Linked DNA regions of Homo sapiens: region 2 is linked to region 1. Evidence: fine-mapped expression QTL. A gene starts in region 1. The other region holds a variant in brackets. All regions are shown on one strand. Distances are between the middles of the regions. Region 1 holds the start of ELOF1 (elongation factor 1). Region 2 overlaps ZNF653 (zinc finger protein 653).

Region 1 (5,370 bases):
ACAGGCGTGAGCCACCACGCCCAGCCAACACCCCCAACTCTTAACTGTGATGCTTCCAGTTCACTGAGTAAATAGAAGCAATCCAAAGACAGCTCCTAGGACCAACTCATTCAGCCATTCACCCACCCTCTTTATTTATCTAAGAGATGAGGTCTTGCTCTGTTGCCCAGGCTGGAGTGCAGTGGCATGATCACAGCTTGCTAAAGCCTCAATCCTCTGGCCTCAGCCTGCTCAGTAGCTGGGACAACAGGTGTGCACCACCATGCCCAGCTTCGGCATGCCTCCTTTACTATGGAAGTAAGTTCCTGCAAAAACAATTTGTTCATTCTGCCCTGGCTCCCATCCCCTTTTCTTTGAGCAACATCAAATTTTCCAGCTCCACTGGATCACTCTCACACACTTGTTATTACCTCTCTCCTCATTTAAAAAGGGGGAAAAAAAAACTCTTCATCCTCTTCCAGCTATGATCCTTTTCTCTGCAGGCTGTTTTAGTGTACAGCCATCTGCATTCCCACCCATCTCTCTGCACCCCTTGCCTCCAAACTTAGGTTACTGGTGGCTCCATACTGCAAATCCCAATGGCAGTCCTCCCATTCCAGAGGTCCTTCCTCCCCTGAGAGCACATGTGGCTCTCAGGATGCCATGTGCTCCCTGTCCTCTGCCTCACTGGTGGCTCCTGCTAGTCTCCTATGCTCCTGCCTCTCTGCCAACTTGCTCCAATGAAGAGAGCACGTGAGTTTGGGCCAGGCGCTGTGGCTCACGTTTATAATCCCAGCACTTTGGGAGGCCAAGGTGGGCAGATCACTTGAGGTTAGGAGTTGGAGACCAGCCTGGCCAACATGGTGAAACCCCATTTCTACTAAAAATACAAAAATTAGCTGGGCGTGGTGGCACATGCCTGTAATCCCAGCTAATAGAGAGGCTGAGGCAGGAGAATCGCTTGAACCTGGGAGTCGGAGGTTTCAGTGAGCTGAGATTGTGCCACCGCACTCCAGCCTGGGCAACAGAGCAAAACTTCATCTAAAAAAAAAAAAAAAAAAGGCTGAGTGCAGTGGTTCACGCCTGTAATCCCAGCACTTTGGGAGGCCGAGGTGGGCAGATCACGAGGTCAGGAGTTCGAGACCAGCCTGACCAACATGGTGAAACCCCATCTCTACTAAAAATACAAAAATTAGCCAGGCATGGTGGTGCACGCCTGTAATCCCAGCTACTCGGGAGGCTGAGGCAGGAGAATCACTTGAACCTGGGAGGCGGAGGTTGCAGTGAGCCGAGGCACTCCAGCCTGGGCAACAGAGCAAAAAGCCCATGAGTTTAATTGTTGGATCCTCTCCTTTCTGGCTATACTCACCACATGAAGATTTCACCCAGTCTTAGGGCTTCATGCCTACTCTACACTGAGGCCACCTGCTTCTCCAGCCTTGAGTCTGAACTGCAGACTCTGATCTATCTGCCTCAGCCACACCTCCACCTGATGTCTAACTTCCACCTAAGATTAAACATATCATGTCCAAAACCAAGCCCCTGACATTGCAACCTGCTCTTCCAGTCTTCCTCATCTCAGCTAACAGCAATTCCATCTTTCCGGATAATCAAATCAGAAACCTTGGATTCATCCTCAATGTCTTTTTCCCTCACACATTCCTTATGCGATCCTCCCCCTGCCCCTCTACCTCTGAAATATAAATTAGCCGCGGCACCACGCCCAGCTAATTTTTGTATTTTTTGTAGAGACAGGGACCCACCATGTTGCCCAGCCTGGTCTGGAACTCCTGGGCTCAAGAGATACTCCCGCCTCGGCCTCCCAAAGTGCTGGCGTTACAAGCATGAGCCACCGTGCCCAGCAATAACCATTACTGAATAAATCACTCAATCAGTTTGCTTGTAACTCTATCACTTTGGGACGTCACGCCCGTAATCTCATCACTTTGGGAGGCCCAGGTGGGAAGATCGCTTGAAGCCAGGAGTTCCAGACCAGCCTGGGAAACAGAGTGAGACCCTTCATCTCTACAAAATTACAAAAATTAGCCTTGAGTCTGTAGTCCCAGCTACTCGGCAAGCTGAAGTGGGAAGCTTGCGCCCAGGAGGTCGAGGCTGCAATGAGCTATGATCGCGCCACTGCACTCCAGCCTCGGCGACACAGCAAGACTCACTCTCAAAAAAAAAAAAAAAAGTCCAAACAAAATCTACGGATGAGCCCCAGAAGCTCATTTTGCCCAGGGACTACAGTCTCCCCATCCCATGAATGGGGTCTGGCTTGCACAAGGAATGCAGAGGCCTCAGCCTGTCCTGTGACAACGTTAAGTCCAAGAGCGCCAAAAGGGGATGGCAGAGGAGTCATCCCCCGAATCTGCTGGTACCCAAGAGGTGGGGGGTTGGCTGTTCCTCCAGACTCACTAAAGCTTCGGCATCGCCTCCCGACGGCCGCCGGGAGGAGCCAGGCGTCCCGGTAGTCGCGCTTGGAAGGATGGGGTCGGGGGGAGTCAGTCTCCCCGACCGGCTTTCCCCCAAGCTCGAGGTCCCAGGAGCCTCCTCCAGGACCCCGTAAACGCACGGAGTAGAGGAACTTCCAGTCCTGCCCACCCCCAACGCCCACTCGCACGAGCCGCACCAGCACTCACCTTCTCCAGCTGCGAAAGCTCCGTTCACCCGGGAGATAGTGACTTCCGACTCCTGCCGGAAGCGGAAACCCCTCTCCTACTTTCAGGTCCCGGCCACCCCCATCCCGGACAGCCCAGCAAATAGGCCCTGCCTCCTTCGCCGCTCCTCTGAGCGCACGCGTACTCAAATAGCAGCGCTCCGACGGAGACGCAGTGCGCCTGCGCAAGAGCCGGTGCGTATTTGCCTGTACCTACGCGCGATGCCAGTACTTCTGGTCAGTTTCCAGGAGCGGCAAGTGAGGAATATGAAATAACCTTATGGCTGAATCAGGGTGAAGGGGAAGCTTGTAAGCATGGAAGACGCTCTACTCAAACTAAAAAGTTCAAGTTCTGATCCAGCAGATGAAGAGGGAGGCCTGAGAGGCTGCTGTTCTAACTCGCTCCCAGGTGACTTCCATGCTGCTGATCCGCAGACCACATTTTGAGTGCCCAGATTGTAGTAGATGAGGTTGAGTGGACAGGCTGGGGCCAGATTCCATGGAGCCTCGTGGGCCGTGTTAAGGATTTTTATTTTTTATTTTTGTTTTATTTTATTTTATTTTTTTGAGACGGAGTCTCACTTTGTCGCCCAGGCTGGAGTGCAGTGGCTCGATTTCGGCCCACTGCAACCTCCGCCTCCCAGGTTCAAGTGATTCTCCTACCTCAGCCTCCCGAGTAGCTGGGATTACAGGCGCCGGTCACCGCGCCCGGCTAATTTTTGTAGTTTTTTTTTTTTTTTTTTTTTTGAGTAGGGATGGGGTCTCACCATCTTGGCCAGGCTGGTCTTGAACTCCTGACCTCGTGATCCACCCGCCTCGGCCTCCCAAAGTGCTGGGATTACAGGCGCGATCCACCCGCCTCGGTCTCCCAAAGTGCTGGGATTACAGGCGTGAGCCACCGCGCCCGGCCAAGGACTTTTATTGGTTTTTATTTTTGGTTTTGTTTTTTTCTGAGACAGGGTTTCGCTCCGTCGCCCAGGCTGGAGTGCAGTGACGCCATATGGGCTCACTGCAACCTTAGCCTCCCGGGTTCAAGCGATCCTCCTGCCTCAGCCTCTTAAGTAGCTGTGATTACAGGTGCGCACTACCATGCCTGGCTAATTTTTGTATTTTTAGTAGAGATGGGGTTTCACCATGTTGGTCAGGCTGGTCTCGAACTCCTGACCTCAAGTGATCCATCCACCTCGGCCTCTCAAATTGTTGGGATTACAGGCATGAGCCACCACACCTGGCCTGAAAAAGATATTTCAAGATGGAGAGAGAGAGGGGTTAGCTGTGTCACGTGTCCCTGAGTTGAAGAAGATGAGGAAAGAGAATTGACAGTTGAGTTTGGCAAGGGTCTGGTCCCTGCGGACCTTGATAAGAGCTGTTGCATTAGAGTGTTCAGGAAGATAATTTGTAATGAAATGTATTTCGAATACAGATGCTCTTTGATTTACGATGGGGTTACATCCCGATAAACCTATCATAATCAAGTCAGGGGCTGTCTGTAGAGGGATCTCTAGGATATCCCCTAGGGGGCAGTGTTACCCTGGTAACCGTCAAGTGTAACCAGTAGAACTGCCCTCTTGTGAGACCCTTTTTCAGTGCTGGAGCAAACTAGAATACACACAGGATGGAATCATACTATACAGTTACCGTGCAACTTGCTATTTCCACTTAACCATCTATACACGTATACCTAACTTTTGTTTTTAGTAGCTACATGATTCATAGTGCAACTCTGCCATAGTATAATCAACGGTTATCCTACTGATGGACAATTCCTGGACTTTCCTGAGTTTTGCCACTGTGATGATGCAGTAAATGTCCCTGAATCAGTATCCTTAAGACTGGATCTTTAGTGAAGCATAGTTTTCAAAAAATGACATTTGTGAGTACAGTGTCTCACCCCAGTAACCCCAGCACTTTGGGAGGCCGAGGTGGGAGGACTGCTTGAGCCCAGGAGTTTGAGGCTAGCATGGGCAACATAGTGAAATCCTGTCTCTAAAAATAAAATAAAATAAAATAAAAAACAATAAATGATGGCCGGGTATGGTGGCTCACACCTGTAATCCCAGCACTTTTTTGTTTTTGCTTTTTTTTTTTTTTTTTTGAGACAGAGTCTTGCTCTGTGGCCCAGGCTGGAGTGCAGTGGCGTGATCTCGGCTCACTATAACCTCCACCTCCTGGATTCAAGCAATTCTCCTGCCTCAGCCTCCTGAGTACCTAGGATTACAGGTGTGCGCCAACATGCCTGGCTAATTTTTGTATTTTTAGTAAAGATGGGGTTTCACCATGTTGGCCAGGCTGGTCTTGAACTCCTGACCTCGTGATCTGCCTGCCTTGGCCTCCCAAAGTGCTGGGATTACAGGCGTGAGCCACGGCGCCTGGCCCATCCCAGCACTTTGGGAGGCCAAGACGGGTGGATAACCTGAGGTCAGGAGTTCAAGACTAGCCTGACCAACATGGTAAAACCTTGTCTCTACTAAAAATACAAAAATTAGCTGGGCATGGTGGCAGGCACCTGTAATCCCAGCTACTCAGGAGGCTGAGGCAGGAGAATCACTTGAACCCCGGGAGGCAGAGGTTGCAGTGAGCCGAGATCGCGCCACTGCACTCCAGCCTGGGCAACAAGAGTGAAACTCCATCTCAAAAAAAAAAAAAAAACAAAGACATTGAGTCACAGGATGTATATATCTTTCATTTTGTTCATGATTGCCACATTAGTTTTCTCTTTTTCTCTCCTTTCATCC
Region 2 (5,370 bases), 70 kb before region 1:
TGGATTTGAGGGCTATCAGCCTCTGTGGGCCTGGAACAGGCAGCCCCAATTGATTCATTCCTTTGTTCCTTCACTCTTTAACTTACTAGAACAACCCTGGCTCCAGCTTGCAGGCCTGGCTTGCACTAAGTGCTTAATACATGCTCAATCAATGCATGGCATGGCACAAAGGCCTGTTGTTGCATCCTCCCATGCCAGGTCCTGGGGTGTGACAAGTCCCTGTCTTTGCCTTCAGGGACACCTCGTCAAATTTCAAGGGGCAAACTAGAGGTAGGACATCCTGGTGGTGCCATGGCCTGGGCCTTGTGGGCCTGGCCCAGGCTGCTCCGGGTGGCGGCCTCACCTGGAAGCTGCTGAGGGCCACGTAGACTTGGCTGCAGCCCTCGTATGGGCAGTGGAACATCTCGAGCAGGCCGTCAGCATCCATCACCCGCGACCGCTTGCTCCGCCGCCTCCTGGAGGGGAAGGGGCCATGACATCGGGGCTCCCGCACCAGGCAGGCTGGGGGCCTGCGGGCCGCTTCTAGCCCTCGCCCTCACCCTTGCCCGCCCCGGCACCCACTTCTCAGGCTCCTTGGGGATTTCATAGATGATGGCTGACATGTCGCTGCCGTCCAGCTCCTCCCCGTCCGCCTCTGCCTCAGGCTCTGCGCTCTCAGGCACCGTTGTTGCCAGCTCCGGGGCTACTGGCTCCTCCTTCTCCTCCTTCTTTAGCAAGCACAGGTCCTCCTTCTCTACAGGGTGGACACAGGGTGGTGTCCGCAGGGGACGAAGGCTGCCGAGGTGCCCACTTCGAGGGCCATTCCTCGCCCGGCCCCTCCCAGGCCCAACCACCCCTGGCCAGAGGCCACGACAGGTCCCCCAGACCTTTCTTGGTCTCGATGCCTGCTACTGCGGTGGCGTCCATGGTGCTAGGCTGGCTACCCTCGGGCTCTGTCTGGGTGTAGGCTGCCACACCCTCCATCATGGCACAGGGCACCTCCTCGCCCAGTCCACTGCCGGGGACACCGCTGCCTGCTGCCATGTTGAGGTGAATGCCCTCGGCCGTGAGAGCGTCGTAACCAGGGCCCGCAATGATGATCACCTGTGAGCCGGGCACCATGCCTGGCATGGGGCAGCTGGCCACCACCTCACCCAGGGCCTCCTGGGGCACGTTCTCAAAGAGGGCGCTGGGGCCCGCACCCACTTGCACAGGCACCGGCACGCACACCACTGTCTCCAGGGCTTCAGGCCCATTGCCTGCTGGGTTGGAGCACAGCGGGGTACCCTGCTCGGCCAGGCTTTCCACGTGGTGGACGTCAAAGGGAATGTGCACGCCCTCCTGAGTGATGAGCCCGCTGCTGCCCACCGGGCTGGTGGGCGTCGCTGCCGCTGCCGCTGCCGCAGCCTTGACCGGCTGGCCCTCAGGAGACTCCTCAGAGTCAGAGGCAGAGCCAGAGCTGGATGAGTCAGAGCTGCCAGCCACCAGCCCATTGCCCACTGTGGGGACAGAAGAAAGGGAGTGGTTATGATAGCTGCAGCCACTGGTATTTGTTTATTTAGTTTTTATTTTATTTTATTTATTTATTTATTTATTTTTTTGAGACAGAGTCTCACTCTGTCACCCAGGCTGGAGTGCAGTGGTGCGATCTCAGCTCACTGCAACCTTGGCATCCCCGGTTCCAGTGATTCTCCTGCCTCAGGCTCCCGAGTAGCTGGGACTACAGGTGTGCGCCACCACACCTGGCTTTTTTTTTTTTTCCTGAGATGGAGTCTCACTCTGTCACCCAGGCTGGAGTGCAGTGGCGCGATCTCTGCTCACTACAAGCTCTGCCTCCCAGGTTCATGCCATTCTCCCACCTCAGCCTCCCGAGTAGCTGGGACTACAGGCATGTGCCGCCATGCCCGGCTAATGTTTTGTATTTTTAATAGAGATAGGGGTTCACCAGGATGGTCTCGATCTCCTGACCTCGTGATCCACCCACCTCTGCCTCCCAAAGTGCTGGGATTACAGGTGTGAGCCACCGCGCCTGGCCCACACCCGGCTAATTTTTGTATTTTTAGTAGAGACGGGGTTTCATCATGTTGGCCAGGCTGGTCTCAAACTCCTGACCTCAAGTCATCTGCCCGCCTCAGCCTCCCAAAGTGTTAGAATGACAGTCATGAGCCACCGTGCCTGGCTGAATTTTTCTTTTCTTTTCTTTTTTTTTTTGAGATGGAGTCTCGCTCTGTCACACAGGCTGGAGTGCAGTGGCGCAATATTGGCTCACTGCAAGCTCCGCTTCCCAGGTTCACACCATTCTCCTGCCTCAGCCTCCCGAGTAGCTGGGACTACAGGCAACCGCCACCACGCCCAGCTAATTTTTGTATTTTTAGTAGAGATGGAGTTTCACTGTGTTAGCCAGGATGGTCTCGATCTCCTGACCTTATGATCCGCCCACCTCGGCCTCCGAAAGTGCTGGGATTACAGGCATGAGCCACCGCATCCGGCCTGAGTTTTTCTTTTTTTTTTTTGAGACAGAGTTTCGTTCTGTCACCCAGGCTGGAGTGCAATGGTGCAATCTTGGCTCACTGTAACCTCTGCCTCCTGGGTTCAAGCGATTCTCCTGCCTCAGCCTCCTGAGTAGCTGGGATTACAGGCGTGCACCACCACACCTGGCTAATTTGTGTGTTTTTAGTAGAGATGAGGTTTTGCCATGTTGGCCAGGCTAGCCTCAAACTCCTGACCTTGGGTGATCCATCCACCTCGGCTCCCCAAAG[T/C]GCTAGAATTATAGTCATGAGCCACCACATCTGGCCCGATTTTGTTTTTGTTTTGAGATGGAGTCTCCCTCTGTCACCCAGGCTGGAGTGCAGTGGTGCGATCCGGGCTCACTGCAACCTCTACCTCCCAGGTTCAAGCAACTCTTGTGCCTCAGCCTCCTGAGTAAATGGGATTACAGGTGCATGCAACCACACCTGGCTAATTTTTGTATTTTTAGTAGAGACGGGATTCCCCATTTTGGCCAGGCTGATCTCGAACTTCTGACCTCAGGTGATCTGCCCGCCCGGGCCTCCCAAAGTGCTGGAATTACAGACATGAGGCACCTCGTGTGGCCCTGATTTTCCCAAGTAGAGATCAGGTCTTGTTATGCTACCCAGGCTGTGGCCTTGAACTCCTGGGCTCCAGTGATCCTCCCACCTCAGCCTCCCAAAGTGCTGGGATTACAGGCGGGAGCCACCATGCCCGGCCAGCAGTTGGTATTTGTTGAGGGCTCTTCAGGGGCTAGACACTGTGACCCTCTCACTGCTTAAAACAGCAGTCACTTCTCAATCCCCACTGTCCCTAACTGTTCCAAGATGACTGACCCAGCTGACCACCCCTACTCCAGGGGACACTCTCCTCTCTTAGCCCCCAGACCCACGCTGTGGTATCCTGGGCCCTTCCTGGTGGCTCCTTCCAAGTTTATTTGGTTCTTGCAGGCCTGGAAGGCTTGGCCTGGGGCCTCTCCTCAGCGCTCACCTTACCCCCAGGCTTGCCCAGGCTAATGGGGTTAAAGGCCACCCTCCGATTCTCGATGCCAACTGAATGTCCAATAATTCAATCCAATCTGACATTATCTTCCCGGAGTGGGCGTCAAATCCTCCAAGTTAAAGGCTCAGTCCCACAAGACCGCCGGACTTCAGATGTCAGCTGCAAGTCCTGGGCTACCCTGTATGTCTGACCAATGGGCTCTAAATGGGGGGTTTCCATGACCCCATCCTCAGGTTTGATAATTTGTTAGAACAACTCACAGAACTCAGAAAATGGCTCTACCTACAATTACAGCTTTATTACAAAGGATTCAACTCAGCGACAGCCAAAGGGAAGAGATGCACAGGGCAAGATACGGGGGTATGGTATGGGCTTCCATGCCCTCTCCGGGGGTACCACCGTCCCAGCATCTCAATCTGGAACTGTTCACCAATCTGGGACTGTTCAAGAGGGTTTTTGTTGTTCTGTTGTTGTTGTTGTTTGTTTTTTTGAGACAGAGCCTTGCTCTGTTGTGTAAGCTGTAGTGAAGTGGCACAATCTCGGCTCACTGCAACCTCCGCCTCCCAGGTTTAAAAAATTCTCCTGCCTCAGCCTCCTGAGTAGCTGGGACTACAGGCACACGCCACCATGTCAGGCTAATTTTTTTTTTTGTATTTTTAGTAGAGATGGGTTTTCATCATGTTGGTCAGGCTGGTCTGGAACTCCTGACCTCAGGTGATCTGCCCGCCTTGGCCTCCCAAAGTGCTGGGATTACAGGTGTGAGCCACCGCGACTGGCCAAGTATGTATTCTTATTACTACAACCATCCATGGCCTGGTGATTCCATCTGCAGCTTCTGCCTACACCTCCATGTCGAGCTCCAGATTCTTCCATCTCATTGGCCCCCTAAGAGTGTCTCACAGGCATCTCAAACTCAGATCTGCAACACTGGGCTCTGTATCTTCCCTTCTACAAAGCCTGCACTGCTCACGGGTGTCCCTGACTCAGCGGAAGGCAGCTCAGTCTCTCCAGTGGCTCAGGCCAAAGTCCTGGGGCTCTTGTTGACTTCTCTCTCTCTCACACCCACTTCCAATCTGTCAGCAAAACCTGTTGGTGCTGCATCCAAAATACATCCACCCGCAGCCTGAACGCTTCTCCCACTTCCCCTGCAGATGCTAGTTGCGGCCCCACCGGCCCCCTGCCAGGGCCAGTGCAGTCCCTTCTTTTGGGTCCCCGGCTCCTAAGAACCTACTCTTTACCTCCTGTGAAAGAAGCAGGCCAGCTACTCACTAAATCCCTCTCTTCCTGGCACCAGCACCGACTACATTTCCCAGCATCTCTTGCAGGTAGGTGTGGCCATGTGGCTGAGTCCCAGCCAATGGAATGCAAGTGGACAGGTGCTCCCAAGGTTGAGTCTCCACTTTTCTCCCCACCAGTAAGCCAGGACCCACAAGGAGGCTGGAGCCATAGGAAGGAAAGAACCTGGGTCCAGGGATGAAAGGCAGTCTGCAGGATGGAAGCACCAGGCTTTGTATGTGGGAAACAAACCACTGTGCCAGGTCACGAGAGCTGGAGTGCGTCTGTTTCAGGAGGTGTTCCATCACCTCCTGTCCTCGCCTCCTCTCCTAATGTCCTTGGAGACACTAGATAGGTTCCTGCCTCAAGGCCTTTGCACCTGCCATTCCCTCGGCTTGAATCCTCTTTTTTTTTTTGAGATGGAGTCTCGCTCTGTCGCCCAGGCTGGAGTGCAGTGGCACGATCTTGGCTCACTGCAAGCTCTGCCTCCCAGGTTCACACCATTCTCCTGCCTCAGCCTCCCAAGTAGCTGGGACTACAGGTGCCGCCACCACGCCCAGCTAATTTTTAGTAGAGACAGGGTTTCACCGTGTTAGCCAGGATGGT

Evidence for each region. PIP is the estimated chance that this variant, and not a neighbour inherited with it, causes the effect. A credible set is the group of variants that fine-mapping cannot tell apart.
Region 2: its variant is the best candidate, but not a certain one, in a credible set for the expression of ELOF1 in whole blood (TOPMed, PIP 0.81).

Annotation. Positions count from the first base shown.
Region 1 is chr19:11,556,573-11,561,942 of GRCh38, forward strand. ELOF1 (elongation factor 1) reads right to left here and starts at 2,658. Exons shown (of 4, transcript NM_032377.4): 1 at 2,619-2,658. RefSeq lists an enhancer at 3,982-4,276.
Region 2 is chr19:11,486,426-11,491,795 of GRCh38, forward strand. ZNF653 (zinc finger protein 653) reads right to left here. Exons shown (of 9, transcript NM_138783.4): 4 at 867-1,478; 5 at 562-733; 6 at 344-455. Among named protein-coding and RNA genes, the nearest start is that of MIR7974, 6.5 kb to the right of the region's middle. The variant T/C (reference allele first, on the strand shown) is at 2,739.